Linked DNA regions of Homo sapiens: regions 2, 3 and 4 are each linked to region 1. The links come from fine-mapping of genetic effects on gene expression. A gene starts in region 1. Each other region holds a variant in brackets. All regions are shown on one strand. Distances are between the middles of the regions.

What was found.
Region 2: its variant is fine-mapped to the expression of PROC in whole blood (TOPMed, PIP above 0.99).
Region 3: its variant is fine-mapped to the expression of PROC in whole blood (TOPMed, PIP above 0.99).
Region 4: its variant is fine-mapped to the expression of PROC in esophagus muscle (GTEx, PIP above 0.99).

The regions. Positions count from the first base shown.
Region 1 is chr2:127,413,243-127,421,223 of GRCh38, forward strand. It overlaps PROC (protein C, inactivator of coagulation factors Va and VIIIa), which reads left to right and starts at 5,185. Exons shown (of 9, transcript NM_000312.4): 1 at 5,185-5,250; 2 at 6,680-6,770. The coding sequence starts at 6,701. RefSeq lists enhancers at 2,146-2,908, 3,289-3,348.
Region 2 is chr2:127,265,020-127,271,586 of GRCh38, forward strand. It overlaps ERCC3 (ERCC excision repair 3, TFIIH core complex helicase subunit), which reads right to left. Exons shown (of 15, transcript NM_000122.2): 12 at 6,317-6,434. Among named protein-coding and RNA genes, the nearest start is that of ERCC3, 26 kb to the right of the region's middle. The variant C/T (reference allele first, on the strand shown) is at 1,885.
Region 3 is chr2:127,388,005-127,393,843 of GRCh38, forward strand. It overlaps MAP3K2-DT (MAP3K2 divergent transcript), which reads left to right. Exons shown (of 4, transcript NR_187129.1): 2 at 877-994; 3 at 1,107-1,181. It also overlaps a transcript of MAP3K2 not described here. Among named protein-coding and RNA genes, the nearest start is that of MAP3K2, 2.9 kb to the left of the region's middle. RefSeq lists a silencer at 1-260. The variant A/G (reference allele first, on the strand shown) is at 3,108.
Region 4 is chr2:127,476,554-127,485,075 of GRCh38, forward strand. IWS1 (interacts with SUPT6H, CTD assembly factor 1) reads right to left here. Exons shown (of 14, transcript NM_017969.3): 14 at 4,259-4,622. The coding sequence ends at 4,491. Among named protein-coding and RNA genes, the nearest start is that of IWS1, 46 kb to the right of the region's middle. RefSeq lists an enhancer at 3,254-4,205. The variant C/T (reference allele first, on the strand shown) is at 4,397.

The sequences.
Region 1 (7,981 bases):
GCAATTCAATGGGAGAAAGGATAGTGTTTGCAAGAAATGGGACTGTGACAACTAGATCTCCATATATTTTAAAGAATGATTCTTGGCCCCTACCTCACACCATATACCAAAATTAACGAATTCAAAATGGGTCAGAGATGTAAATGTAAGAGTGAAAAACCATAAAGCTTCTAGAAGAAAACATAAGAGAAAGCCTTTGTGACCTTGAATAAGGCAGTGTTCTTTGGTAGGACACAAAAGCACGAATCATAAAAGAAAATGTTGATAATTGGACTTCATCAAAATTACAAACATCTGTTCATTAAAAGACACTGTTAAGTATAAAAGACAAGTCACAGACTGAGAGGAAATTTTTGCAAAATACTTAGCTGACAAAGGGCTTGTTACTAGGATACATACAAATTCTAAAAACTCAATTTAAAAAACCCTCAAAAACAAAGAAACAAACAAAAAACAGCCCAAAGACTTAAACTGGCACTTCACCAAAGAAGATATAAATAGCAAATTAGCACAGGAAAAGATGCTCAAAATCACCAGAGAAGAGGGAAATGAAAATTAAAGCTACAATGAGATACCACTACACATCTATTAAGAAGGCTAAAAATTGAAAATTAAAATTAAAAAACAACCGACAACACCAAATGCTGGTGAGGATGCAGAGCAACAGGAACACTCAGACATTGCTTGGTGGGAATGCAAAATGCCACCACCACTCTGGAAAAGTTTGACTTTATTTTTTTTTCCCAAAAGTAAACACGTACTCACCACATGACTCAGCAATCTTATTCCTAGATATTACCCAAGAGAAATGAAAACATATGCCCACACAAGGACCTATACATAAATGTTCTAGCAGCTTAATTTAATGATAGCCAAGAACTGGCAAATGGATAACAGATTGTGGCACATCTATATAATGGAGCCCAGTCAGCAATAAAAAGAAATAAAGTACTGATATAGAATTCCACATGAATAAATCTCAAAAGCTTTATGCTGAGTGAAAGAAGGTAGTCTTAAAAAGCTATGTACTGGTTGGGCACGGTGGCTCACGCCTATAATCCCAGCACTTTGGGAGGCTGAGGTGGGCGGATCACTTGCGGTCAGGAATTCAAGACTAGCCTGGCCAACATGGTGAAACTAAAAAATACAAAAATTAGGCAGGTGTGGTGGCGTGTGCCTGTAATTCCAGCTACTCAGGAGGCTGAGGCAGGAGAATCACTTGAACCCAGGAGGTGGAGATTGCAGCGAGCTGAGATCACACCACTGCACTCCAGCCTGGGCAAGAGAGCAAGACACCAACTCAAAAAAATATATATATGTGCTGTAGGATTCCCTTTATATGCTATTCTAGAAAATGCAGATTATAGAGATAGAAATCCAATCAGTGGTTGCCAAGAGTTGGGGTGGAACACAGAATTTCTGAGGGTGATGAAAATGTGTATATCATGATGTGGTGGTGGATGCACTATAACATACATTTGTCAAAACAAGCAGAACTGTACATTTTTAAAGTGTGAGTTTCCCTGTGTGTAAATTATACCACAATAACCTGACAACAACAAAAGAGAGAGACGTTGGACTGCATCCATCCCACTCCACTTCTTACCAGGGAGCTCCCGGGAGCCTCTCTAGTGTCTGTCCTCCCTGCCCTGCCTGGGGTGGGCTGAGCAGCACAGCGTCCCTGCAGAGAGAATGGAGAATGGGCAATGCCCACACAGGGGAGTGGCATGGGGTGAGAAGGAACCTTAGTCCCGTCAGCCCTGACCACCAGCCCATCTCTCATCACTGTTCAGCAGAGTGAGCTCAAGTTGGGTTTCTGGCATCTATTGGCAGAGCCAGGGCCAAAACGCAAGGGGTGGGGAGTGTTGTACAGGTTAGGGCTGACTGAATGATCAGCCCTAATCTGTACAACGGATCTGTGCAGTCTGAGCTTCCACACAGCAGCAGCTGTCCTTGACCCCTTCCCCTCCTAGTCGGCCCCTCCCTGACCTTCCCAGGCCTGTGGGAAGTCCTGTTAAGTCCCAGGCCATGTCCACTTTGTATAAAATACTTAAAAATAAGGCCAGGCACAGTGGCTCCCGCCTGTAATCTCAGCACTTTGGCAGGCTGAGGAGGGAGGATCACTTGAGGTCAGGAGTTCTAGAGCAACACAGCAAGACCTCCTCTCTCCTAAAAATTTTTAAAAATCAGCTGGGCGTGGTGGCACGGGCCTGTGATCCCAGCTACTGAGGTGGCTGAAACAGAAGAATCGCTTGAGCCCAGGAGATCTAGGCCGCAGAGAGCTGTGATCCCGCCACTGCACTCCAGCCTGGGTGACAGAGCCAGAGAGACCCTGTTTCAAAACTTTTTTAATTAAAAAATTAATAAAAGATTTAACGTGACCCTTATAACAGTCACCTGAGACGGACGCTGACCCCATTTTACAAATGTGGACATTGAGACACAGGGAAGTTAAATCCCCCTGTCAGAAAAAGGCTAGCGGAGGTTTAAGGCCGTGGGAACGTGACTCCAGAGCTGAGGGCTTTGGAACCCCGCCTGCTCCGGTAGTTGTGGCTGGCCTTGCCCCACACACATTTGGTTCTAGCTCCTTTGCTTGGGTCTTCATCCATGCAGCGAATTCCTTAGCCACAGGTGTCCCTCTGCTCTCTAACTCACAGCGAGCTCGCTGCCCAAAGTCCTGCTCCGGCTTCCTGGGTGGACCTGACCGCGTTCGGGTGCACGTGGGGCGACTCACACCTGACAAGTAAAGCGGGTGAGGCCGCGCCTGTGAAGGGCGCCTGGCTCCTCCGCAGGAGCGGTGCGGCGCGGCGCCCCCGGCTGGAACCAGGTGTAACTGCAGAGACCCTGGGATCGCAGGAACGGCTGGCGGCAGGACTGTCCCTACCTCGAGAAGGTGACGGGGTTTCCTGCGCTGCCAGCCGATGAGGCGGCCGTGACGCAGCCCGCCGTGCAGAGTCCCCGTCGGCCGACAGGCGTGCAGAGCTCTGCAGAGGACCCTTCCGCCCTCTGGGCAGCCTGCCAAGCCGTGGCACCCCCAACCCCCAGCACTGGGCACTTGGGAGCATTGCAGCCGCCCTGGCTCGTACCGGTGCCGGTGCTTTGGGCACCTGGGCTGGTTTGGACATGGGTGCCCCGGGCAGAGTCCATTTATGCAGGTCAGAATCAGTGTGTGGAGCCTGCATAGACTTGCCCTGGAGCGGCTGCCTGTGCTGGGGTGGGGAGGAGTAGAGGGCGAGAAGTTGGTGGGGAAGGGAAGCGGCGCCAAAAGAATACCCACAACATCTTGCACCTGGAAGGCAAAGCAGAGGGCAGTGATCTCTGCAGACTTGCGGGGGCGACGCCTGAAGCAAACAGGGACATACAAGCTGGTGCCTTCTGTGGTTGTGCATGGGGTCTTCATGCTTCCTGTCTGAGTTCCCAGAAGCTTGTCTCTGCTTTTCTAGGCAGCTGCCACAGCCTGTCACAAACAGCTCCTGGTTCTCCACTTCTCATAGTCTCGATTTCAAAATCCATTGCCTCACCCTCCACCTCCTCTCCACCTCCACCCCTCCTAGCACCTCCTGACTGCTTGTGTTCTGTGTCTCCCCACTGTCTCCCAACCTGGGGTGGGGTTGGGGGGGATGTCTTTCCTCCTGTCTGCTCTTTGATGTCCAGCTGAAGTGTCACCTCCTACAGGCAGCCTCCCCTGGCTATGCCAGCTTGTACTGATTGCCCTCTCCTCTGAATTCTGTAAGCATTTCCTATGTGTACCTGCCCCTGGGCAAGGTGGGCCTGACTTGTTAGAGTGTTAGAGTTTTACCCTGTTCCTCTAGGAGGGCCTGGTACCACCACAGCCCAGCATGGTGTGGTGCCTCAGCAGGAGGCATCTGGTTACAATCAACACAAGCTGTTCCAGCCAATTTAAAGAAACTTCAGGAGGAATAGGGTTTTAGGAGGGCATGGGGACCCTCCTGCACCCGAAGCCAGGATGTGCCACCAATCATAAGGAGGCAGGGGCCTCCTTCCGCTGCTCCCTGGGACTCTCTAGGTGTCCGTGGCCTCAGTCCCCCTCTGCACACCTGCATCTTCCTTCTCATCAGCTTCCTCTGCTTTAAGCGTAAACATGGATGCCCAGGACCTGGCCTCAATCTTCCGAGTCTGGTACTTATGGTGTACTGACAGTGTGAGACCCTACTCCTCTGATCAATCCCCTGGGTTGGTGACTTCCCTGTGCAATCAATGGAAGCCAGCGAGGCAGGGTCACATGCCCCGTTTAGAGGTGCAGACTTGGAGAAGGAACGTGGGCAAGTCTTCCCAGGAACAGGTAGGGCAGGGAGGAAAGGGGGGCATCTCTGGTGCAGCCCGGTTCGGAGCAGGAAGACGCTTAATAAATGCTGATAGACTGCAGGACACAGGCAAAGGTGCTGAGCTGGACCCTTTATTTCTGCCCTTCTCCCTTCTGGCACCCCGGCCAGGAAATTGCTGCAGCCTTTCTGGAATCCCGTTCATTTTTCTTACTGGTCCACAAAAGGGGCCAAATGGAAGCAGCAAGACCTGAGTTCAAATTAAATCTGCCAACTACCAGCTCAGTGAATCTGGGCGAGTAACACAAAACTTGAGTGTCCTTACCTGAAAAATAGAGGTTAGAGGGATGCTATGTGCCATTGTGTGTGTGTGTTGGGGGTGGGGATTGGGGGTGATTTGTGAGCAATTGGAGGTGAGGGTGGAGCCCAGTGCCCAGCACCTATGCACTGGGGACCCAAAAAGGAGCATCTTCTCATGATTTTATGTATCAGAAATTGGGATGGCATGTCATTGGGACAGCGTCTTTTTTCTTGTATGGTGGCACATAAATACATGTGTCTTATAATTAATGGTATTTTAGATTTGACGAAATATGGAATATTACCTGTTGTGCTGATCTTGGGCAAACTATAATATCTCTGGGCAAAAATGTCCCCATCTGAAAAACAGGGACAACGTTCCTCCCTCAGCCAGCCACTATGGGGCTAAAATGAGACCACATCTGTCAAGGGTTTTGCCCTCACCTCCCTCCCTGCTGGACGGCATCCTTGGTGGGCAGAGGTGGGCTTCGGGCAGAACAAGCCGTGCTGAGCTAGGACCAGGAGTGCTAGTGCCACTGTTTGTCTATGGAGAGGGAGGCCTCAGTGCTGAGGGCCAAGCAAATATTTGTGGTTATGGATTAACTCGAACTCCAGGCTGTCATGGCGGCAGGACGGCGAACTTGCAGTATCTCCACGACCCGCCCCTGTGAGTCCCCCTCCAGGCAGGTCTATGAGGGGTGTGGAGGGAGGGCTGCCCCCGGGAGAAGAGAGCTAGGTGGTGATGAGGGCTGAATCCTCCAGCCAGGGTGCTCAACAAGCCTGAGCTTGGGGTGAAAGGACACAAGGCCCTCCACAGGCCAGGCCTGGCAGCCACAGTCTCAGGTCCCTTTGCCATGCGCCTCCCTCTTTCCAGGCCAAGGGTCCCCAGGGCCCAGGGCCATTCCAACAGACAGTTTGGAGCCCAGGACCCTCCATTCTCCCCACCCCACTTCCACCTTTGGGGGTGTCGGATTTGAACAAATCTCAGAAGTGGCCTCAGAGGGAGTCGGCAAGAATGGAGAGCAGGGTCCGGTAGGGTGTGCAGAGGGCCACGTGGCCTATCCACTGGGGAGGGTTCCTTGATCTCTGGCCACCAGGGCTATCTCTGTGGCCTTTTGGAGCACCTGGTGGTTTGGGGCAGGGGTTGAATTTCCAGGCCTAAAACCACACAGGCCTGGCCTTGAGTCCTGGCTCTGCGAGTAATGCATGGATGTAAACATGGAGACCCAGGACCTTGCCTCAGTCTTCCGAGTCTGGTGCCTGCAGTGTACTGATGGTGTGAGACCCTACTCCTGGAGGATGGGGGACAGAATCTGATCGATCCCCTGGGTTGGTGACTTCCCTGTGCAATCAACGGAGACCAGCAAGGGTTGGATTTTTAATAAACCACTTAACTCCTCCGAGTCTCAGTTTCCCCCTCTATGAAATGGGGTTGACAGCATTAATAACTACCTCTTGGGTGGTTGTGAGCCTTAACTGAAGTCATAATATCTCATGTTTACTGAGCATGAGCTATGTGCAAAGCCTGTTTTGAGAGCTTTATGTGGACTAACTCCTTTAATTCTCACAACACCCTTTAAGGCACAGATACACCACGTTATTCCATCCATTTTACAAATGAGGAAACTGAGGCATGGAGCAGTTAAGCATCTTGCCCAACATTGCCCTCCAGTAAGTGCTGGAGCTGGAATTTGCACCGTGCAGTCTGGCTTCATGGCCTGCCCTGTGAATCCTGTAAAAATTGTTTGAAAGACACCATGAGTGTCCAATCAACGTTAGCTAATATTCTCAGCCCAGTCATCAGACCGGCAGAGGCAGCCACCCCACTGTCCCCAGGGAGGACACAAACATCCTGGCACCCTCTCCACTGCATTCTGGAGCTGCTTTCTAGGCAGGCAGTGTGAGCTCAGCCCCACGTAGAGCGGGCAGCCGAGGCCTTCTGAGGCTATGTCTCTAGCGAACAAGGACCCTCAATCCCAGCTTCCGCCCTGACGGCCAGCACACAGGGACAGCCCTTTCATTCCGCTTCCACCTGGGGGTGCAGGCAGAGCAGCAGCGGGGGTAGGCACTGCCCGGAGCTCAGAAGTCCTCCTCAGACAGGTGCCAGTGCCTCCAGAATGTGGCAGCTCACAAGCCTCCTGCTGTTCGTGGCCACCTGGGGAATTTCCGGCACACCAGCTCCTCTTGGTAAGGCCACCCCACCCCTACCCCGGGACCCTTGTGGCCTCTACAAGGCCCTGGTGGGCATCTGCCCAGGCCTTCACAGCTTCCACCATCTCTCTGAGCCCTGGGTGAGGTGAGGGGCAGATGGGAATGGCAGGAATCAACTGACAAGTCCCAGGTAGGCCAGCTGCCAGAGTGCCACACAGGGGCTGCCAGGGCAGGCATGCGTGATGGCAGGGAGCCCCGCGATGACCTCCTAAAGCTCCCTCCTCCACACGGGGATGGTCACAGAGTCCCCTGGGCCTTCCCTCTCCACCCACTCACTCCCTCAACTGTGAAGACCCCAGGCCCAGGCTACCGTCCACACTATCCAGCACAGCCTCCCCTACTCAAATGCACACTGGCCTCATGGCTGCCCTGCCCCAACCCCTTTCCTGGTCTCCACAGCCAACGGGAGGAGGCCATGATTCTTGGGGAGGTCCGCAGGACACATGGGCCCCTAAAGCCACACCAGGCTGTTGGTTTCATTTGTGCCTTTATAGAGCTGTTTATCTGCTTGGGACCTGCACCTCCACCCTTTCCCAAGGTGCCCTCAGCTCAGGCATACCCTCCTCTAGGATGCCTTTTCCCCCATCCCTTCTTGCTCACACCCCCAACTTGATCTCTCCCTCCTAACTGTGCCCTGCACCCAAGACAGACACTTCACAGAGCCCAGGAGACACCTGGGGACCCTTCCTGGGTGATAGGTCTGTCTATCCTCCAGGTGTCCCTGCCCAAGGGGAGAAGCATGGGGAATACTTGGTTGGGGGAGGAGAGGAAGACTGGGGGGATGTGTCAAGATGGGGCTGCACGTGGTGTACTGGCAGAAGAGTGAGAGGATTTAACTTGGCAGCCTTTACAGCAGCAGCCAGGGCTTGAGTACTTATCTCTGGGCCAGGGACTGTATTGGATGTTTTACATGACGGTCTCATCCCCATGTTTTTGGATGAGTAAATTGAACCTTAGAAAGGTAAAGACACTGGCTCAAGGTCACACAGAGATCGGGGTGGGGTTCACAGGGAGGCCTGTCCATCTCAGAGCAAGGCTTCGTCCTCCAACTGCCATCTGCTTCCTGGGGAGGAAAAGAGCAGAGGACCCCTGCGCCAAGCCATGACCTAGAATTAGAATGAGTCTTGAGGGGGCGGAGACAAGACCTTCCCAGGCTCTCCCAGCTCTGCTTCCTCAGACCCCCTCAT
Region 2 (6,567 bases), 150 kb before region 1:
TATTTTTAGTAGAGACGAGGTTTCACCATGTTGGTCAGGCTGGTCTGGAACTCCTGACCTCAGGTGATCCACCTGCCTCAGCCTTCCAAAGTGCTGGGATTAGAGGTGTGAGCCACCATGCCTGGGGCCATATTTTTTTTTTAAATTACTGATTCAATTTCTCCTTATTGATCTGTTCAGGGTTTCAATTAATTTCTGATTCAATCTTGGGAAGTTGTATGTTTCCAGGAATTTATCTATTTCCTCTAGATTTACTAGTTTGTGTGCACAGAGGTATTTTTAAGTCTCTGAGAATCTTTTGTATTTCTGGGGATCAGCTGTGATGTCACCTTTGTCATTTCTGATTCTGCTTATTTGGATCTTCTCTTTTCTGTTAATCTAACTAGCAGTCCATCAATCTTATTTATCTTTTTTTTTGAGACGGAGTCTCGCTCTGTCACCCAGGCTGGAGTGCAGAGGTGCGATCTCGGCTCACTGCAGCCTCTGCCTCCTGGGTTCACGCAATTCTCCTGCCTCAGCCTCCTGAGTAGCTGGGATTACAAGCATGCGCCACCACATTCGACTAATTTTTGTATTTTTAGTAGAGACGGGGTTTCTCCATGTTGGTCAGGCTGGTCTTGAACTCTTGACCTTGTAATCCGCCCACCTCGGCCTCCCAAAGTTCCAGGATTACAGGCATGAGCCACTGCGACTGGCCTTATCTATCTTTTCAAAGAACCAGCTTTTTATTTCATTGATCCTTTGTATTGTTTTTGAGTCTGAATTTCATTTAGTTCTGCTCTGATTTTAGTTATTTCTTTTCTTCAGCTAGTTTTGGGATTAGCTTGTTCTTATTTTTCTAGTTCCTTCAGGTGAAATCTCAAATTGTTAATTTGAAATCTGTCTTCTCGATGTAGGTGTTCAGTGCTATAAACTTTCCTAACAATACCTTTGCTGTACCCCAGAGATTTAGTATGTTGTATCTGTTTTCATTTGTTTCAAATAATTTTTGATTCCTGCCTTAATTTGTTTATCCAAAAGTCATTCAGGAGCAAGTTGTTTAGTTTCTATGTAATTGTGTGGGTTTTTTTTTTTCTTTTTTCTTTTATTTAGCGATGAGGTCTCGCTATGTTGCCCAGAATGGTCTTGAACTCCTGAGTTCAAATGATCCTCCCACTTTGGCCTCCCAAAGTGCTGCGGTTACAGGCATGAGCCACTGTGCCTGGCCAATTGTGTGGTTTTGAGAGTTCTTCCTGGTACTGATTTCTACTTTTATTCCACTGTGACCCAAGAAAATGCTTGGTATGATTTCGACTTTTTTGAATTTATTGAGTCTTTTTTTTTTTTTTTTTTTTTTGAGAGAGTCTCGCTCTGTTGCCCAGGCTGGAGTGCAGTGGCGCGATCTCGGCTCACTGCAAGCTCCGCCTCCCAGGTTCACGCCATTCTCCTGCCTCAGCCTCCCGAGTAGCTGAGACTACAGGCAACTGCCACCACACACCCGGCTAATTTTTTGTATTTTTAGTAGAGACGGGGTTTCACTGTGTTAGCCAGGATGGTCTCGATCTCCTGACCTCGTGATCCACCCGCCTTGGCTTCCCAAAGTGCTGGGATTATCGGCGTAAGCCACCACACCCTGCCGAATTTATTGAGACTTTAATAAAGTCGAGCATAAAGTCTCACATTGCTTTATGGCCAAACACATGATCAATTATTTTTTTTTTTTTTTTTTTTTTTTGTGACAGAGTCCTGCTCTGTTCCCCAGGCTGGAGTGCAGTGGCATGATCTTGGCTCACTGCAACCTCTGCCTCCCGGCTTCAAGTCAGTTCTCCTGCCTCAGGCTCCCGAGTAGCTGGGACTACAGGCGCATGCCGCCACACTCAGCTAATTTTTGTATTTTAGTAGAGA[C/T]GGGGTTTCACCGTGTTGCCCAGGCTGGTTGCAAACTCCCGAGCTCAGGCAATCTGCCGGCCTCAGCCTCCCAAAGTGCTGGGATTACAGGTGTGAGCCACGGCACCAGGCCCATGTGATCAATCTTAAGAGTATATTCTGGGGGCAGATGAGAATATATATTCTGTGGTTGTTGCGTAGAGAATTATGTAGATGCCTATTAGGTCCAATTGGTCAAGTGTTGAATTTTAAGTACAGAATTTCTTTGTTAGTTTTCTGCCTCTATAATCTGTCTCATGCTGTCAGTGGGGTGTCAAAATCTCCTACCATTGTTGTGTGGCTGTCTAAGCCTTTTCCTAGCTCTAAAAGTACTTGGTTTATGAATCTAGGTGCTCCAATGTTGGGCGCATATATATTTAGGATAGTTAAGTCTTCTTGTTGAATTGAACCATTTATCATCGTGTAATGACCTTTTTGTCCTTTTTTACTGTGGCTGGTTTAAAGTCTCTTTTATCTGATGCAAGAATAGTGACCCCCTGCCCCACTCTTTTTTTTTTTTTATTTGTGTGATAGATTTTTTTCCCTATCCCTTTACTTTGAACCTATGAGTCCTGTTACATGTGAGAGAGGTCTCTTGAAGACAGCAGAAGGCTGGGTCTTGTTTTTAATCCAATTTGCCACTCCAAGTCTTTTAGGTGGGGTGTTTAGGTTGTTTACATTCAAGGTTAATATTGAGACATGAGGCTTTATTCCTAACATGGTGTCATTAGCTGGTTGCTCTGTAGTTTGGATTGTGTAGTTGCTTTACAGGGTCTGTGGGCTATGTGCTTATGTGTATTTTTGTGGTAGCAGGTGTCACCATTCTTTCATTTCCATGTTTAGAACTCTCAAGACTCTCTTGTAGGGCCAGTCTGGTGATAACAAATTCTTTTAGCAGTTGCTTGTCTGGGAAAGATTTTATTTCTTCTTTGCTCATGTAGCTTAGTTTGGCAGGATATGGAATTCTTGGTTAGGATTTTTCTTTTTTATTTTTTTTCTTAAAGAGACTGGGTCTCACTATGGTTTTTTGGTTTTTGTTTTTTTGTTTTGAGACAGAGTCTTGCTGTTGTTGCCCAGGCTGGAGTGCAATGGTGCAATCTCGGCTCACTGAAACCTCTGCCTCCTGGGTTCCAGCAATACTCCTGCCTCAGCCTCCTGAGTAGCTGAGATTATAGGCACCTGCCACCACGCCCGGCTAATTTTTGTATTTTTAGTGGAGATGGGGTTTCACCATGTTGGCCAGGCTGGTCTGGAACTCCTGACCTCAGGTGATCCACTCACCTCAGCCTCCCAAAGTGCTAGGATTACAGGTGTGAGCCACCGCGCCTGGCCTGTTTTTTTGTTTGTTTTTGTTTTAAACAGGATCTTGTTCTGTTGCCCAAGGTGGAATACCGTGGTGAGATGTCAGATCACTGCAACCTCTGCCTCCCAGACTAAAGCGATTCTCTTGCCTCAGCCTCCGGAGTGGCTGGGACTACAGGCGCACACCACCACACCCAGCTAGCTAATTGTTGTATTTTTTGTAGGAACAGGGTTTCATCATGTTGCCCAGACTGGTCTCAAACTCCTGAGTTCAAGCAATCTGCCTACCTTGGCCTCCCAAAGTGCTGGGATTACAGGTGTGAGCCGCCGTGCCCAGCCAGGATTTCTTTTCTTTTCTTTAAGAATGCTAAAAACAGTCCCCCAATCTCTTCTGACTTGTAAAGTTTCTGCTGAGAAGTCTGCTGTTAGCATGATGAGTTATATGACCCTTTCTCTAGCTGTCTTTAAGATTCTTTCTTTTGTATTGACCTTGGAAAGTCTGACGGCTATGTGCTCTGGGGATGATCATCTTGTACAGCAGGAAGAGTCATTCTCACCCTCGATCTTAGCAACCTTAGCATATGATTTTTATTCCCTTGCTTAAATTAATAACTTTTACCTTTTCGCTTTAAGAAAGCACTTTACAGCTTCTCTGGCATATCTGAATTGCTAGCATCATTACACTTGTGCTTTGGGGCCATTAGTAAGATAAAGGTTACTTGAAAACAAGCACTGAGATACAGTGACAGTCCGTGACAACTGAGATGGCTACTAAGTGACTAATGGGTGGGGAGAATTTAAGCATGAATATGCCGCACAAAGCAAGAATTCACATCATGGATGCTACTCAGAATAGTGTGTAATTTAAAACTTATGAATTGTTTATTTCTGGAATTTTCCATTTAATATTTTTAGACTACAGCTGACCATGCGTAATTGAATGTGGAAAGGAAAATTGCAGATATGGGGGGACTACTGTATTAAAAAACTAGGACAGAAAATTCTGTGGCCTGAAAGACTTGATCCTTCAGGAAAATCTGAACATCTTTGCTTTGTAGTTCAAATGTCAGTAGGTTAAGCATACTGCCCTTGAATGTAATTGTTTCTCAAATCTTACAAGAGCTCAGAGATGCAAAGAAAGGAGCCAAGTGTCATGTTAAACAGTGTTTTGAGTAAGAAAACAATTCTATTCACTTTTTTTTTTTTTTTTTTTTTTGAGATGGAGTCTTGCTCTGTTGCCCAGGCTGGAATGCAGTGGCGCAATCTCGGCTCACTGTAAGCTCTGCCTCCCGGGTTCACGCCATTCTCCTGCCTCAGCCTCCCGAGTAGCTGGGACTACAGGCACCCGCCACCACGCCCAGCTAATTTTTTGTATTTTTAGTAGAGACGGGGTTTCACCATGTTAGCCAGGATGGTCTCAATCTCCTGACCTCATGATCTGCCTGCCTGGGCCTCCCAAAGTGCTGGGATTACAGGCGTGAGCCACCGCGCCTGGCCTTCTATTCACATTTAAGGGAGTTTTTAAGGCTAGGCACAGTGGCTCACACCTGTAATCCCAGCACTTTGGGAGGCCAAGGTGGGTGGATCACTAGAGACGAGCCTGGCCAAAATGGTGAAACCCCGTCTTTACTAAAAATACAAAAAAAATTAGCTGGACGTGGTGGTGCACGCCTGTAGTCCGGGTACTCGGGAGGCTGAGGCAGGTGAATCACACTTGACCCCAGTAGATGGAGGTTGCAGTGAGCCGAGATTGTGCCACTGCACTCCAGCCTGGGTGACAGAATAAGACTCTATCTCAATCAATCAATCAATCAATCAATCAATAAAGGAGTTTTCAAATTAGAGTAAGGAATAAGTAATGAATTATATTCACATTTGCTAGCAGATCATAGTCCTGTCAGTTTATAAAAGCTACTGTCTCAGCCTCCCAAGTAGCTGGAACCACAGGTACACACCACCACGCCCAGCTAGTTTTATTTTTTGTAGAGATGGGGTCTCACTACATTGCCCAAGATGGTCTCAAACTCCTGGGCTCAAGCTATCCTCCTGCCTTGGCCTCCCAAAGTGCTGGGATTATAGGTGTAAGCCACTGTGCCCAGCCAGCCGACTACATTTTATGACTTATAAGCTGAATCCTCACAGCAGTCTTGGCAAGACAGGATTGTCACCCCCACTTTGGATGGGAAAACCAAGTCTCAGAGGAGAAAATAATTTGCCAAAGGTGACACAGCTGGCTTGGTGCCTGAGTCCATGCTATTTCTAGTCCATGCTATCTGCCTCATCTCCATTTTAAATACAAGCTACTAGACGCTTCTTAAACACATCTGAACGCAGTACAGTTCCAACAGATGCCCACTAATCTTGTCATTTTCAAACATTCTAGCAGTCCAGATGCCTCCTTGAATAAGCAGACTCCTTGAGGATAGGGCTTGTGTCCTTGTCTCAGGATGTGCCCTGGTCCCAGTAAGACAGACACGGCCATCTCTTAGCAAGAGTGTCAGTCCCTGCCATGTCCACAATGGCAGTCTGGGCCCTTTTACCGCAGTAAGCAAGCACAGGGGTGCCACGCCTCCTCAGAAAAAGCCTTTGCAATGAGGATTCTCACCTCCTCACTCACTGAGCTTGCCCTGCCCCTGCTGCAAGCTGCCACCAGGGCGGCACTCTGCACAGGTTATGAATGACGTGCCCATTGTGTGTCTGCCCAAGCTGCTCCTACCAAACCTTTCCCTGCCTCCTGATCAAGTTCCAGAAGCAGCTTCCAGCTCCTCCACTTACACTGGTGGCCCAGCTCTGTTTTCTCCCTTCCATGTCTACCCCATAAGCACTGCCTTGCCCTGGCTCCCTCTCACCATCTACCAACACAGCTGCACAGTGTACAGAGCACATCTGTGTGGATTCCGTGACACTGTCATGGAAAACACCTGCATATTCACCCCCAAGGTATGAGAAATAATGATGGGCCATAAGGATCTAGGTCTTTGCTTTGGGATTCTCTCCCTCCAGAGTCTATTTAGCCCCAGGGCACATGGCAGCTCTCACCCCTATCGTCTTCCTAACTAAAGTGGTTTAAGAGGAGTGACCTCCTGCAACAGAAGATGAAAGGCCACTTTACCTTTTTTAGCTCGAAGCACCCGCCCTAGCCTTTGGGCTTCCTGACGCCTGGAGCCACCATGGGATGAGATCTGAATGAGGACATTTGCTTCCGGCAGATCAAACGAAGTGTCACCTACCTACAGAAACAAGTTGGAAGGTTTTTATATATGAGGAAAAAAAAAAAGTCAACTGATCCAGAATTTAAATAAGTTCTGTAGATAATTTTGAAACATAATCACTCTTTTCTCCTCTTTATACCAGGGTCTATCT
Region 3 (5,839 bases), 26 kb before region 1:
CGCTCGCTCGTGCGCGCGCACCCCTCCGCCCGGCGGTAGCGGAACCCGCCGCGGGCGCGCGCCCGGCCCAGGGGAGTGGGTCGGCGCCTGCGCAGAGGCCCGCCACGCCCACACACAGGCCACCGCCCCCACCGGCCGGACGGCGCGGGGATTCCCAGTCCTGGCTCCGCCCCGGCCTCGGCCCCGCCCCCGCCCCTGCCCCGGGGCAGCCTGTGCTGTTCCGTGTGCGCGGCGCATACGCACCTGGGTTGTCTCGAGCCTGCGGTAGTGGCCAGATCCCAGACATCCGAGTAGATCCCGTGAAAAGGTCTCCCACGTGGGCTGTGGACAGGGCCCAAGGGTAGCAGAGCTAGCAGAGGCAGTGACGGACTGTGTGGCAGGTCATTTGCAAGGAGAAAAGCCGTCTGCCTCTTAATTTGTGGCTCAAGTTTCAGAATTTTTTTCCTGAGGGACTTTAGAAATTACTTCAGGCTTGCCACCTAACCTTAAACCACCCCCTTGGAGACTGGCTAAGTGTTATTTGTGTTTTCTGTTTAGTTCTTATCACCATCGATACTTGGTTATGACTGGTTGTGTACATTGGTTAGCCCAGCAAGTATTACTTCTCCAGCTTAACAGATGTGGAAACTTAAGCCCAGAGACATGAGTTGACACCCCACCCCCAAAGCTAGAGTCTAAAACCCTTTCTTTCGCTCCTCATCTCCCACAGGATAAAATGCAAATTAATCAGACTAGTGGTGAGGCCCTCCGTGGTGTGACTAACCTGCATCCCGACGTTTTCACCCTACTTTGATCCAGAAAGCACCTTTCCGCCCCATCTCTTCTCCTTTCCTTAAATACCCCTTACAACTTCCTGTACCATTCTTCCCTGTTCAGCTTCTTCTTGGTTTCTTCGTACATTCTGGATCCACCCCTTTCATGCATATTCCAGACCACATTTCCACTGGAGCAGTTGAAATGAGAGAGATGGGAATGGGACTCACCCGAACCAGAGGTAAGGAGCTACCCAACTTGGGCTCTGAGGGTCAAGGGAGCTGGCACTTGTGGGGCAGAGACTGAGGGAGAAACTGTTGTGTAATGTCAAAATATCTCTGGGTTTCTTCCAGGAATTTTTATTACAGACCCATTAACAGAGGTGTCAAAGTCACAGGAACAAGGATGTGCACCTCAGAAACACAGAGGTCAGTGGAAAATCAGTTTGCTTCTATTTGTTTAAAAAATGGGGGACTTATGCATAAATCTAAGACCTTCTTGAATCTAACATTCTAAGACCTGTATGCCACAGAAAGGAGGGTCTCAGAACGCCGGAGGATAGTATTTAAATCTTAAATATCTATATTGTTCTCCACAGTTACTGGGTCACCACATAGCAGGCATTCAATAAAAACGTGTTTGTTTACTAAGTAATCTAGAGATAAATTTTTTCCCCTCATAGTGCTGCTCATTTCTCCACTCCCTTCCCTCACTTACCACCCCGGGGACTTCATTCACCTCTGGGTTCCTCAGAAACATCCCGTGGGTATAGTTATAGTAGCTATTCTTTCTTTTTCGCCATTCTCCTTTTATATTGGTGACTTTTCCTCTTGCTTAGATATTAAATCTCTGACATCTTTGGTTATTTTAGTATATATGATTACAAATTAGTGATATTGGGATTTTTTTATTGATGAAACCATCATTCAATGAATATTTTTTTGCCTTCCTACTCTGTGCCTGGGATTGCAGTGATAAAATTATATAGTCCCCACTGCCCAGGAACTCAGAATCCTGTGAGGAAGGCAGACAGGTAAATGGATAATGATAACACACTGTGACCTGCATCATGGGAGGGATGTGTATCAGGCACCACAGCAGCAAGAGGAAGATGTCACAGGTGTGTCTGGGGAAGTGAGAGATGACTTCAGAGAGGAAATGTGGCATGTTCCTTTTCTGTTGCTGCATAACAAACTGCCACAAACTTAGTGACTTAAAACAGTGTCTGTTTTTTAGCTCCCAGTTATACAGATCAGAAGTTTGCACAGGGGCAAGGCTGAGTTCTCTACTCAGGGTATATTGCAAGGCTGAAATCAAGGTATCAGCTGGGCTGACTTTTTATCTAGAGGCCCTTGCAAAGATCTTCCAAGCTCATTCTTCTTTGGGGCACAATTCAGTTTCCTGTGGTTGTAGGATTGACATCCCTATTTCCTGGGCCTGCCTTCAGTTCCTAGAGGTCACCTGCATTCCTTGCCACATGACCCCTTCCATCTTGAAAGCCAGCGACAGAGACCTTCTTGCGTGCCAAACATCCTCCTACATCAGATCTCTCTCTAACTTCCTCTTTTGCTACCAGCCAGAGAAAACTCTCTGCTTTTATTTTTATTTATTTTTTTATTTTTGAGACAGAGTCTCACTCTGTCGCCCAGGATGGAGTGCAATGGCGCAATCTCGGCTCACTACAACCTCCGCCTCCCAGGTTCAAGTGATTCTCCTGCCTCAGCCTCCTGAGTAGCTGGGATTACAGGCACCCACCCCCACGCCCAGCTAAGTTTTGTATTTTTAGTAGAGACAGGTTTTCACCATGTTGGTCAGGCTGGTCTCGGACCCCTGACCTCGTGATTTGCCCACCTTAGCCTCCCAAAGTGCTGGGATTACAGGCATGAGCCACTGCACCCGGCTTTTAGAGAGTTCATATGATTAGATCAGGCCCACTGAGATAATCTATTCTTAACATCAACAGTGTCACATAACATAACCTGATCATAGGAGTATAATCCATTATATTCACAGTACTGAGGGTTATGCAGGCTATGTACACCAGCCGTCAGGGATCTGCAGGGACATCTTAGAATCTTGCTGGCCACATATTGTGCCATGGCTGGCAACTGAAACTTGAACGGGGGTAGTTATTTGCTGGAAGAAATAAGGATGGAGGAGTACGCATTCCAGGCAGAGGGAATCAAGTGTGTCCAAGCTTGGAAGTATGAGGGAACGTGCCCTGCCTAGGAATGGCAAGAGTTGCTGGCCACTGGGTGTTGAGAGAAATGCAGGCAGGGGGTGAAGCTAGAGAAGGAAGAGAGCTGCCAGGAGATTGGGAAGGAGGAATATTAGAGCAGGCCAAATTGCTGGGA[A/G]GGGAGATGAAAGTCTAAAGGTCTAAACCACAGCTGTGGCCATGAAAATGATACGAGTACTATTGGTTGGGATGCATTCAACTGCAGCGAGCAAGACACCTGGCCCAAAACAGCTTAAACAGTGAGGTTGATTTTGTCACATAACAAAAATCCAGTGGATGGATCCAAGGTTGGTTAGGGCTGTGAACAGGCATATTGAGAATCAATGGACGGCCACCTCAGCTCCAAACATGACCTCCCACACAGTAAAGAAGGGGGAACCATCCCTCTGTTTCTTTCCCTCATTCTTTTTTAAAATAAACTTTTTATTTTAGAATGTTGACGAAAGAGTCAAACTCTATAAAATATTTGAAGAGATTTGTTCTGAGCCAAGTATGAGTGACCATGGCCTGTGATACAGCCCTCAGGAGATCATGAGAACATGTGCCCAAGGTGGCCAGATTACAGCTTGGTTTTATACATTTTAGGGAGACATGAAGCATCAAGCAATACATGTAAAGTGTACATTGGTTCAGAAAGTCAGGACAACTGGAAGTGGGGGCTTCCAACTCATAGATGGATTCAAAGATTTTCTGATTGGCAATTGGTTGAAAGAGTTACTATCAATAGAAGATAATTTCTGGGTTACCGTAAGGGGTTATGGAGACCAAGGTTTTATCATGTGGATGAAGCCTCCAGATAGCAGGCTTCAGAGACAATAGATTGTACATGTTTCTTATTGAACTTAAAGAGTCTGTTCTGTCAGAAATTCCAAAAGGGAAGAGGGTAGAATGAGGCATGTCCAGCTCCCCCTTTCCTTCACAGCCTGAACTAGGTTTTTCAGGTTAACATTGGAGTGCCCTTGGCCAAGAGGAGGGGTCTATTCAGGTGGTTGGGGGCCTTAGAATTTTATTTTTTGTTTACAAGAACAGTTTTAGGTTTACAGAAAAACTGAGACAATAGTACAGAGACTTCTCCTATACCCACATTCAGCATTCATTTTCTCCTATTGATATGGTTTGGCTTTGTATGGCCACCCAATCTCATGTCAAATTGTAATTCCCAGTGTTGGAGGAGGGGCCTTGGTGGAGGTGATTGGCTCATGGGGGTAGATTTCCCCCTTGCTGTTCTTGTGATAGCAAGTGAATTCTCACAAGATCTGGTTGTTTAAAAGTGTGCAGCACTTCCCCCTTTGATGTTTCTCTCTCCTGCTCTGCCATGGTAAGATGTGCCTGCTTCCCCCTCACTTTCCATCATGATTGAAGTTTCCTGAGGCCTCCCAGCCTTGCTTTCTGTACAGCCTGTGTAACTGTGAGTCAATTAAACCTCTTTTCCTCTTAAATTACCCAGTCTTAGGTAGTTCTTTATAGCAATGTGAGAACAGACTAATACACCTATTATTACGAACTTGTATTATTAGTATAGTACATTTGTCATAACTAGTGAACCAATATTGATGCATTGTCATTAACTGAAGTCCATACTTTATTCAGATGTCCTCAGTTTTTTCCTAATGCCCTTTTTGTGTTCCAGGAGCCCACACTATGCTTAGTCATCACGTCTCCTTAGGCTTCTCTTGGCTGTGAGTTCCCTTGTTTTTGATGGCCTTGTGCTAAGGAATACTGGTTAGGTGTTTGGTAGAATATTCTTCAATTGTGAATCATGTAATGTTTTTCTCATGATGACACTGAGGTTATGGGTTCTGGGGAAGGAGACCACTGAAGTAAAGTGCCATCTTTATCACATCCTATCAAAGGTAGTCCATTGTCTTAGTCCATTTTGTGCCCTGTAACAAAATACCACAGACTGGGTAATGTGTAATGAACAGAAATTTATCTCTCACAGTTCTGAAGGCTGGGAAGTCCAAGATTGAGGGGCCCACATCTGGCAAGAACCTTCTTGCTGTGTCATCCTGTGGGGGAAGGGCAAAGAGAAGATGAGAGAAAGAGCAAGAAGAGTCAAACTCATCCTTTTATAAGGTGCCCACCCTAGATAATGACATTAATCCATTCATGACGGCTCTCCCCTCATAACTTAATCATAACTTAAACACCTCTTAAAGGTCCTACCTCCTAACATTGTTGCATTGGGGATCAAGTTTCCAAAACATGACCTTTGGGGGACATATTCAAACCATAGCAGGTATATACTGTCAGTATGATTTATGACTTGGTGTTGAGCTTGATCACCTGCCTGAGATAGTGTTTGTCAGGTTTCTCCCCCATAAAGCTACTCTTTATTCACCTCTTTCCATACTATACTCTTTGCAAGGAAGTCACTATGCTCAGCCCACACCTAAGGAGTGGGGAGCTATGCTCCACCTCCTTGTGTGTGAAGTATCTGCATAAATTACTAGGAATTCTTCTGCATGTGAGATCTGTCTCTTCTCTCCTGTTTACTTATGTAATCTTTTATTTATATTAATATAGAATTGTGGGTATATAACTTATGCTCTGGGTTATAATCTAATACTACATTACTTATTTTGTTGCTCTAATTATTCTGGGTTTGGCCATTGGTAGCTCTTTGATTTGTCTCCTGTGTCCCTTTGACACCCATCATTATGATTTTTTTTTTCCTTTTTCAGCACTTCTTTGCTTTCTGGCACTGCCAGCGCTCCAAAATCATCTTGAATATTTCCTGTCCCAGTCTAGAATCAGCCATTTTTCCAAAGGGCCCTGGTTTCTTTTGTTGGAGAATGGTGTTAGAGACCAATATCTGGTGCTAGGTGTGCTAAGGATTCTCTTTTCATT
Region 4 (8,522 bases), 64 kb after region 1:
ATCAAATACAATAAAATACTTAGGAATATACCTAACCAAGGAGGCGAAAGACTTCTACATTGAAAACTACAGGCCATCATGGTGGCTCACATCTGTAATCCTAGCACTTTGGAGGCCAAGGCAGGGGGATCGCTTGAGGCCAGGAGTTGAAGAGCAGCCTGGGCAACATAGCAAGACCTCAACTCTACAAAAAAAATTATCCGGGCATGGTGGCACACACCTGTAGTCCTAGCTATTTGGAAAGCTGAGGTGGGAAGACTGCTTGAAGCCAGGAGTTTGAGACAAGCCTGGACAACAAAGGGAGAATCTGAATCAAAAAGAAGAATGAAAAGAAAGAAAGAAAAAGAAAAGGAAAAAAGGAAAAGAAAACTACAAAACATTAAGGAAATTAAAGAAGACACCAATAAATGAAGATATTCCATGGTCATGATTCAAAGACTTAATATTGTTAAGAAGTCAATACTACCCAGAGCACCTCTACAGATTCAATGCAATTCCTAACAAAATACCAATAATGTTTACTGCATATATAGAAAAATCCATTTTAAAATTCACATGAAATCTCAAATAGCCAAAACAATCTTGAAAAACAACAAAGTTGGAAGACTCACACGTCCTGACTTCAGTGGGGACAGACACACAGACAGTTCTATATTGCAACATGCAGACCAATGGAAAAGAAGAAAGTCCAGAAATCAACTCTTACACATATGGTCAAATGATTTTTGAAAAGACTTGCAAGACCATTCCATGGGGAAAATAAGTTTTTTTCAGTAAATGTTGCTGGGGAAACTTGATATCCATATGCAAATGGATAAAGTTGGAACCTTATTTTACACAACATACAAAAAATCAACTAGAAATGGATCAAAGACCTAAACATAAGAACTAAACTTACAAAATTATAGGGTAAAAGCTTCATAATATTGAATTTGGCAATAATTTTTTTGATATGACACCAAAAGCACAGGCAATAAAAGAAAAAAGTGAGATACAGCAAAATTTAAATGTGTGCAACGAAGAACACAATCAAGAGTGAAAAGGCAATCTAAAGAATGAAAGAGAGTATTTGCAAATCATATAGCTGATAAAGCATTAACATGAGTACACAAAGCACTCCTACAACTCACACCAAACAACCCAATATAAAACTGGGCAAATGACTTGAATAGACATTTCTCCAAGGAAGATATATAAATGGTCAAAAAGTACATTAAAAGATGCTCTACATCACTATCATTAGGGAAATGCAAACTAAAATCACAAGATACCACCTCACATCACTTAGGATGGCTACCATCAAAAAATAAAAATAACAAGTGTTAGCAAGCATATGGAGAAATTGGAACTCTTGTGTACTATTGGTGGGAATATAAAATTGTGTAGCCCCTTATGGAAAGTGTATGTATGGCACTTTCTAAACAAATTTAAAATGGAATTACCATATGATCTAGCAATTCTACTTCTAGGTATATAACCAAAAGAATTGGAAAAAAAAATGGTTGTTTTTTAATATCTCTAAAAGTGAAGAAAAAAAGGTCTTGAACAAATACTTGTACACCCATGATCACAGCAGCGTTATTCACAATAGCCAAAGGTGGAGGCAACCCAAGTGTCCATTGACAGATGAATGGACAAACAAAATGTGGTATATACACACACTGGAATATTATGCAACCTTAAAATGCAAGGAAATTTGGACACATGGACAAACCTTGAGGACATTATACCAAGTGAAATAAGACAGTCGCAAAAAGACAAATGTATGATTCCACTTATATGAGGTACCTAGAACAGACAACTCGTAAGAGACAGAAAGTAGAATGGTGGTTGCCAAGAGCTTGGGGGAGGAAGGAGAGTTCTTTGATAGGTAGAGTTAAAATTTTGCAAGATGAGAAGATTTCTGAAGATGAATGGTGGTGATGGCGATACATTGTGAACATACTCAATGCCACTGAGCGGTAAAACTGTTTAAGATAGTAAATCTTAAAACCGGAAGGGGAAGAAAAAAAGCCAAGCATGAGAGTGCATGCCTATAGTCCCAGCCACTTGGGAGGAGACTGAGGCAGGAAGATTGCTTGAGCCTGGGAGTTCAAGGCTGCAGGGAGCTAGGATCACACCACTGCACTTCAGCCTGGGCGACACAGTAAGAACCCATCTCTTAAAAAACAAACAAAATCCCCCACAACTCTGTATCATCATAGCCAAGTTGTCAAAGTTAGTATCATCAATTCTGGGACAAAACTAAAGTCTATGTTCTTGGAAGAAATATGCTGAAGTATTTGGGGCTCAAGGGGCAAGTTGTCGGCAAGTTACTCTGAGTCTGCAAAAATAGCTCTATGCATATACAAGATGACAGAGTCAATGACGTGGCAAAACGTTAACACTTGGTAAATATCAGTGAGTATACCGGAGTTTATTTACTATTTTTGCAACTACTATAAATTGGAAATATCTTCAAAATTAAAGGTTTTTCTGGCCAGCTAGGTTTGAGCTGCCATAAAACCAACACCAAGGATCATTTATATAGAAACTAATTTTTTCCTTCAAACACAGTACAGGAGAATCTCTTACCATTTTGAATTCCCCGGGTATGGTTTAAAACTTTTTACTTGCCAACATCGTTAAAGTTTTACCCTGTAATAGTGAAATTTTCAGGTAATTGGAGCTTACCCCATTAAATGACAAAATTGTGTAACTTAAAAATCTTTCTTAAATACAACCTTTGTTGTCTTTGTTTCAAATTTATTTTTTAATGATCAGTGTAAGGCTTCACTAGATGCCTCTGCTTTTTCCTTCTCAAGTGTTTTTGAGGGTATTTGTATGAAACATTGCAGAAAAGCTTAGGTTTTTGTCTCCATCTAGTGGCTAGCTATTACCTTCTAATGCCTTTATGCACCTGCTTTTTACAAAGCACTATATCCCACTGTGCTTCTGCGTTTGCTGGAAGTAAATAGTTTGAGAGTTTCTTGTGAGCAGTGTTTTAGTATCTAAACTTCATTATTTTAGCTGTTCAAAGGCTTTTTTGGCCAAAAGTAGTTTTATGTGTTTCTGAAGATCAAGGTGCCAATCCGTATCAGAATAGGATTTCTGAAATTAAAATAATCTAGTTGATAAAACGTTCTTGGGCCTCGTCATCTTGACCTTAAGAGACCTCTCATAATTAAGTCTATAGAGACTATTATCACAAAAATAGAGCAACAAGAAACATAGCTACAAGCTATAATTTTTCTCTCTCCTCTAACTGCTCAACTGCTCTAAGCTTTCGGCATAGTGATTTTCAGTTATATCCATATTTCCTTGAAGACAGTAGTATTTCTTGATCTTTTCTCTGTTATAAGCCCCCATCCCAGAGAAAAATGAAAATCAAAATAATTATCCCAAATAAGAGAAACACATTAATAAGATTTTGTTGGTATTCCATTTCCACCCCAACTGAGGTACTGCAATTCAATTCTGATACGACACACCCAGAGCTGGCATCAGACTCCACGGGTTTAAGAGGTCAGTCCTCCACAATACTGCCCCCACTTCAGATGCAAGCCACAAGTGAGGCATCCAGGCTACTGTCGCTTCTGACCAGCTACAAATTTGGGGTTCTCATAAACCTCTCAGGTTTAAGAACTTGCTGAAATGACTCACAGAACTCAGGAAAGCACTATCCTTCCCTAGAAAACACTATGATTAGTTTTACTACAGAAGATATGAATTAGGAGGGCCAGTCAAATGAAGGGATACATAAGGGAAGGTCTGGGAGGGAAGGCAGAGCTTCTGTGCCCCTGTCCTCATGGAGGGGAATCCTCTCCCTCCCAGCACACCAATGCTTTCACCAACCAAGAAGCGTCATTGAGCTGTGGGGTCCAGAGCTCTTCATCAGGTCCCATTTGGCAGGCATGGTTGATTAAATCAAACAGGTCACTGACTGCGTCTCAATCTCCCGGGTCCTGCTGGCCCAACCCTCTGTAGTAGCTGTTTCTGGTTACCAGCCTCCACCCTAAAGCCCACCATACAGTCACCTCGTTAGCATAACAAGAGACGCTCTATCACTCAGGAAACCACAAGTGTTTTAGACATTCCTTGTCAGCAACCAGGGGCAAAGGCCACACAAATTCCTCATTATACCACAATGAGGGAGGATTGAACCTCTAAGGGTCACAAACCCCTATAATATCATAAGATTTTTTCCCACACAACAAGAAACAATCTTTGCCCCTATTAAGAATGTATCCTCTAAGAAATGAAGAGACAGCCCCCCAAAAACCAGAATGAAATTTTATTGTGTAAAGTTTATAGAAGTATGACTAGTATTCCTTTGTACAAAGTACACAACGGTTTTAAATATAACTGAGAGAAATGTGAGTCCTATGACAACATCTGATACACGCTGAACCATTTA[C/T]AGACACACTAAAAATGTTTTAAAATATCTTCTTTCTCCAAAGAGTCCATTGCGCATTTCTTAGAGTAGAGATGGGGACACATTCCAGGCAAGGTCACAATGGCATTTTGTTGCCCTCAATGCTGATTTTCACTGCGTGTGCAGATCTGCTTTTTTTCCTTATATCTGTGAACTTTCTCATCTGTTTATCCAGTCGACTGATACCCTTCTTGGAGGTCGCCTGAAACTAAGAGTAAGGGAAAAATTAAAGAGCAAACTACTGAAATACGTAAGTCTAGTTATGTCTTTCATCTTCTTATAACTGAGTTAGCAACCAGAAGAGCTTCTAGCTCTGGAATAACCAGAATGTGTGTTGATGACCTCAAGAACAACAAAGCAAGTATAGATGGTGTTAGAAACGCATATTAAACTCTCTCAGTGAAGAATAATTCTGTTGTCTGTGCTTTATTTTTAATTTTGCTGCAGTCCATGGAGGTCTCCTAGATGGGAGAAAGGGGGGGGGAAACTGAGACTATGATCCTCCCAATTCCATCATGTACATTACGTTTTAACTGCATGCGTTTCCCTTTCGAAGACCAAATGTGGAGCTAGCCGCTTGACATGCACTTTCAAACAGTGCTGGCATAAAAAAGAATGACCTAAAGCAAAGTCAGGTCAGCTGAGAAAAAGCCTTAAGCATAATAAATGAGGTTAGATGATTAGTGAAGTAAACCCCTAAGTGCAGGAGCTCTTGAGTTTTTACACTTGGGGTGAATCCCTGCTCTAATTCAGTAACTTCTGTGACCCTGGGCAAAGCATACCCAGGGTAGGTACTCCTTCCAGAACTGCTGAGAGAAGGAAATGAGATAGTGATGTCAGATCCAAGCACAGAGGCTGAGCACATATAGTCAGTGCTCAAAATAATAGGAGCTATTACTATTTTACTACTTCACAAGCAACTAGATTTACATTAAGTATACTTGACACAAAAAGAATATTAAGTCTTTACCCATTTGCCCTTCATGTTTAAAGGTTTGGTTTGGGGGCTATTTTATATTTTGAAAATACTGCCTTGCAAAGATGTGGTCTCCAAGAAACTGCCATCTTTTAGAAATGCTAGAAAGGTTTGCTGACTCTGTTGTAAAACAATTCAGATGTTTAAGAATGATGACTGCTTAAAAAGAGATGGGTTTTTCTAATTCTTCTCCCCATACATTTACTACTGAATCACCTCTGAAACTCAATTCAAAAGAATGCTAAAATAAGGTAGGGCCTGGGAGACACTCTGGGGTCAGTACCAGCCTGGTGAGCTTTGGTGGAATCTTATCCCACCTGTGGACCCAGCCTCAACTATGACATGAAGCCAGCTGAGCACTAGGCAAGGAACTCTAAGTCATTCTTGACCAAGAGCCATGTTGACCTGTCTTTCTAGGAATATCTCAATTCAAATATTATTCTGTATCGTCTCAATACTTGGCATTCGTACTCTGAGTAAGCATAAAAAGTGTCAGATGAGAAAGAGCTATGCCACCATCACACTATCTCCCAGATTTCCTGGACAGTCCCAAATATCTGACTTCCTTTTAGAGGATGTGCCGTGATCTTAGTACTTGTACTTGGTCCACATCGGAAGCTTTACCTGCTCAAATCTCTGCCAACTACACAATTCCCAGCAGCTTCACACATTAACTGGACTTCCCTTCGCCTACTCCCAGGACCCTCACTAACTGTCTAAGCCCTGATGGATCTGTCTAGCCTCAGCAATCAGGGCACACACGGGCCAGTGGGTTACAAAATATATGACTGGTAGTTGCAGATGCCTACTTACCCCAAGCTTGAAAAGACAGACCAGAGTACCTCATACACCAAGTTCAATGATCTCTCTCCTGATTCATCAAGGGAACGCTACACTTCCTTAGAAATTAAGAGTGTGTGCTACACTGCTTTACCAGAGCAAGGCCAAAAGCAGCTTCAATTATGGTACAACTGTGTGAAGACACAATGCAAAACCACTCAAGAATGCTCACTCAAATGGATTTTTACCATGGTAAGTAAAAAACAAACCCAATAAGGTATAAAAGAATACAATCACAATGTCGCTTGAAAAAAAAACAAAAAACAAAACAAAAACCCAGTAATTGTCTATGCATATGTATGAAAAAAAAAGAAATAATTTAAAATGTTAACATTAAGTTGTGGTGGGATTACAGATGGCATTAATTTTATTTATGCTTTCTGTATTTTTAAAAGTTCATGAAAAAATAGGCATTCCTTTGTCATTTTACTGTTATTTTAGAAGTATTCCACGGAGTAAATGAACATATAAAAAATACAATGTAGCACAGGTTACTACATTATTTAGGAGTAAAAAATCAGAAATCATAAACGAACGAATAAACACATTATATTCATGGCCGGGTGTGGTGGCTCCCGCCCGTAATCCCAGCACGCTGGGAGGTCAAGGCCAGAGGATCGCTTGAGACCAGCCTGAGCAAGATGGTGAAACCATCTCTACAAAGAAAGAAAATACATAATAAAAAAAAAAGCAAATTATATTCAGGATAGACCATTATGCAGCCATTAAAAATGATAAATCGACTAGGTGGTTTAATGAAGGAAAATAACCAAAATTATAATTTGGTCGGGGCGGGGGGTGGTGGGGTGGGGGGGTTGGGCTGTGTGTGTGTGTGTGTGTGCGTGTGCGTGTGTGTGTGTGTGTGTTTTCTAGAGATAGGGTCTCACCTAGGCTGGAGTGCAATGGCATGATTCTAGCTCACTGCAGCCTCAAACTCCTGGGCTCGAGTGATTCTCCTACCTCACCCTCCCAAGTAGCTAGGACTACAGATGTATGCCACCATGCCCGGCTAATTTTTTAATTTTTTGGTAGAGATGGAGTCTTGCTATGTTGTCCAGGCTGATATTTAGTATAATTTTAATTAACGTTATCAGTAGAAAAAAGACAACAAATACATCAAACTGCTTTTGAATGCTAGGACCATGAATAATGTTTCTCTTTGTACTTAAACATTTTCTATAATTATAAAAACTAAGTTCAAGGCATATCTGGAAATACATTTAAAACCTCAAATTGTTAGCCGGGCATGGTGGCTCACACCTGTAATCCCAGCACTTTGGGAGGCCGAGGCGGGCAGATCACTAGAGGTCAGGAGATCAAGACCATCCTGGCTAACACAGTGAAACCCCATCTCTACTAAAAATACAAAAACAAAGTTAGCCAGGTGTGGTGGTGGGCGCCTGCCCTAGTCCCAGCTACTCAGGAGGCTGAGGCGGGAGAATGGTGTGAACCCGGGAGGCAGAGCTTGCAGTGAGCAGAGATTGCACCACTATGCTCCAGCCTGGGCGACAGAGTGAGACACCGTCTCAAAAACAAAAACAAAAACAAAAAACAAAAAACCCTATTTATTTTTTATATTTATTTACATAACTTTGAAAACAAAAATGATACTTAAGACAAAAAGTGTTTCATTGGAAACCCATTTCCATTTCTTTTCCTGGACATGTCTTTTCTAATACTGCTCATTAGCGTCTACAATGTGGAAGCAAGTCCTGAGTGAATATGCAACCCTGCTCCACCTATGGGGAAGTGGGACCAGAACCAGAAACATCAGCACACAGGGACACAGCCCTGGAAACACAACCTCTGCTTTCAAAGCAGATTGGCCACTAAGAGTTTTTATTACCTATTTTCTTTGCCATATTGTAGTTCCCAATTCTCAAAAATAAAAATGTTAAGAGAAATATGAAAGACGGCTAAAAAGAGAGAAGAAACAATGAAAAAGGAGATGGCTCATGCCTGTAATCCCTTTGGGAGGCCGAGGCGGGTGGATCACGAGGTCAGGAGATCAAGACCATCATGGCTAACAGGATGAAACCCCGTCTCTACTAAAAATACAAAAAATTAGCCGAGCATGGTGGCAGGAGCCTGTAGTCCCAGCTAACTGGGAGGCTGAGGCAGGAGAATGGTGTGAACCCAGGAGGCGGAACTTGCAGTGAGTGGAGATCGCACCACTGCACTCCAACCTGGGCGACAGAGCAAGACTCCGTCTCAAAAAGAAAAAGAAAAAGAAAAAGAAAAAGGACAGAAGGGCAAAAAAGAAACAGGTACAGGGGACATGGAGAGGTGGTC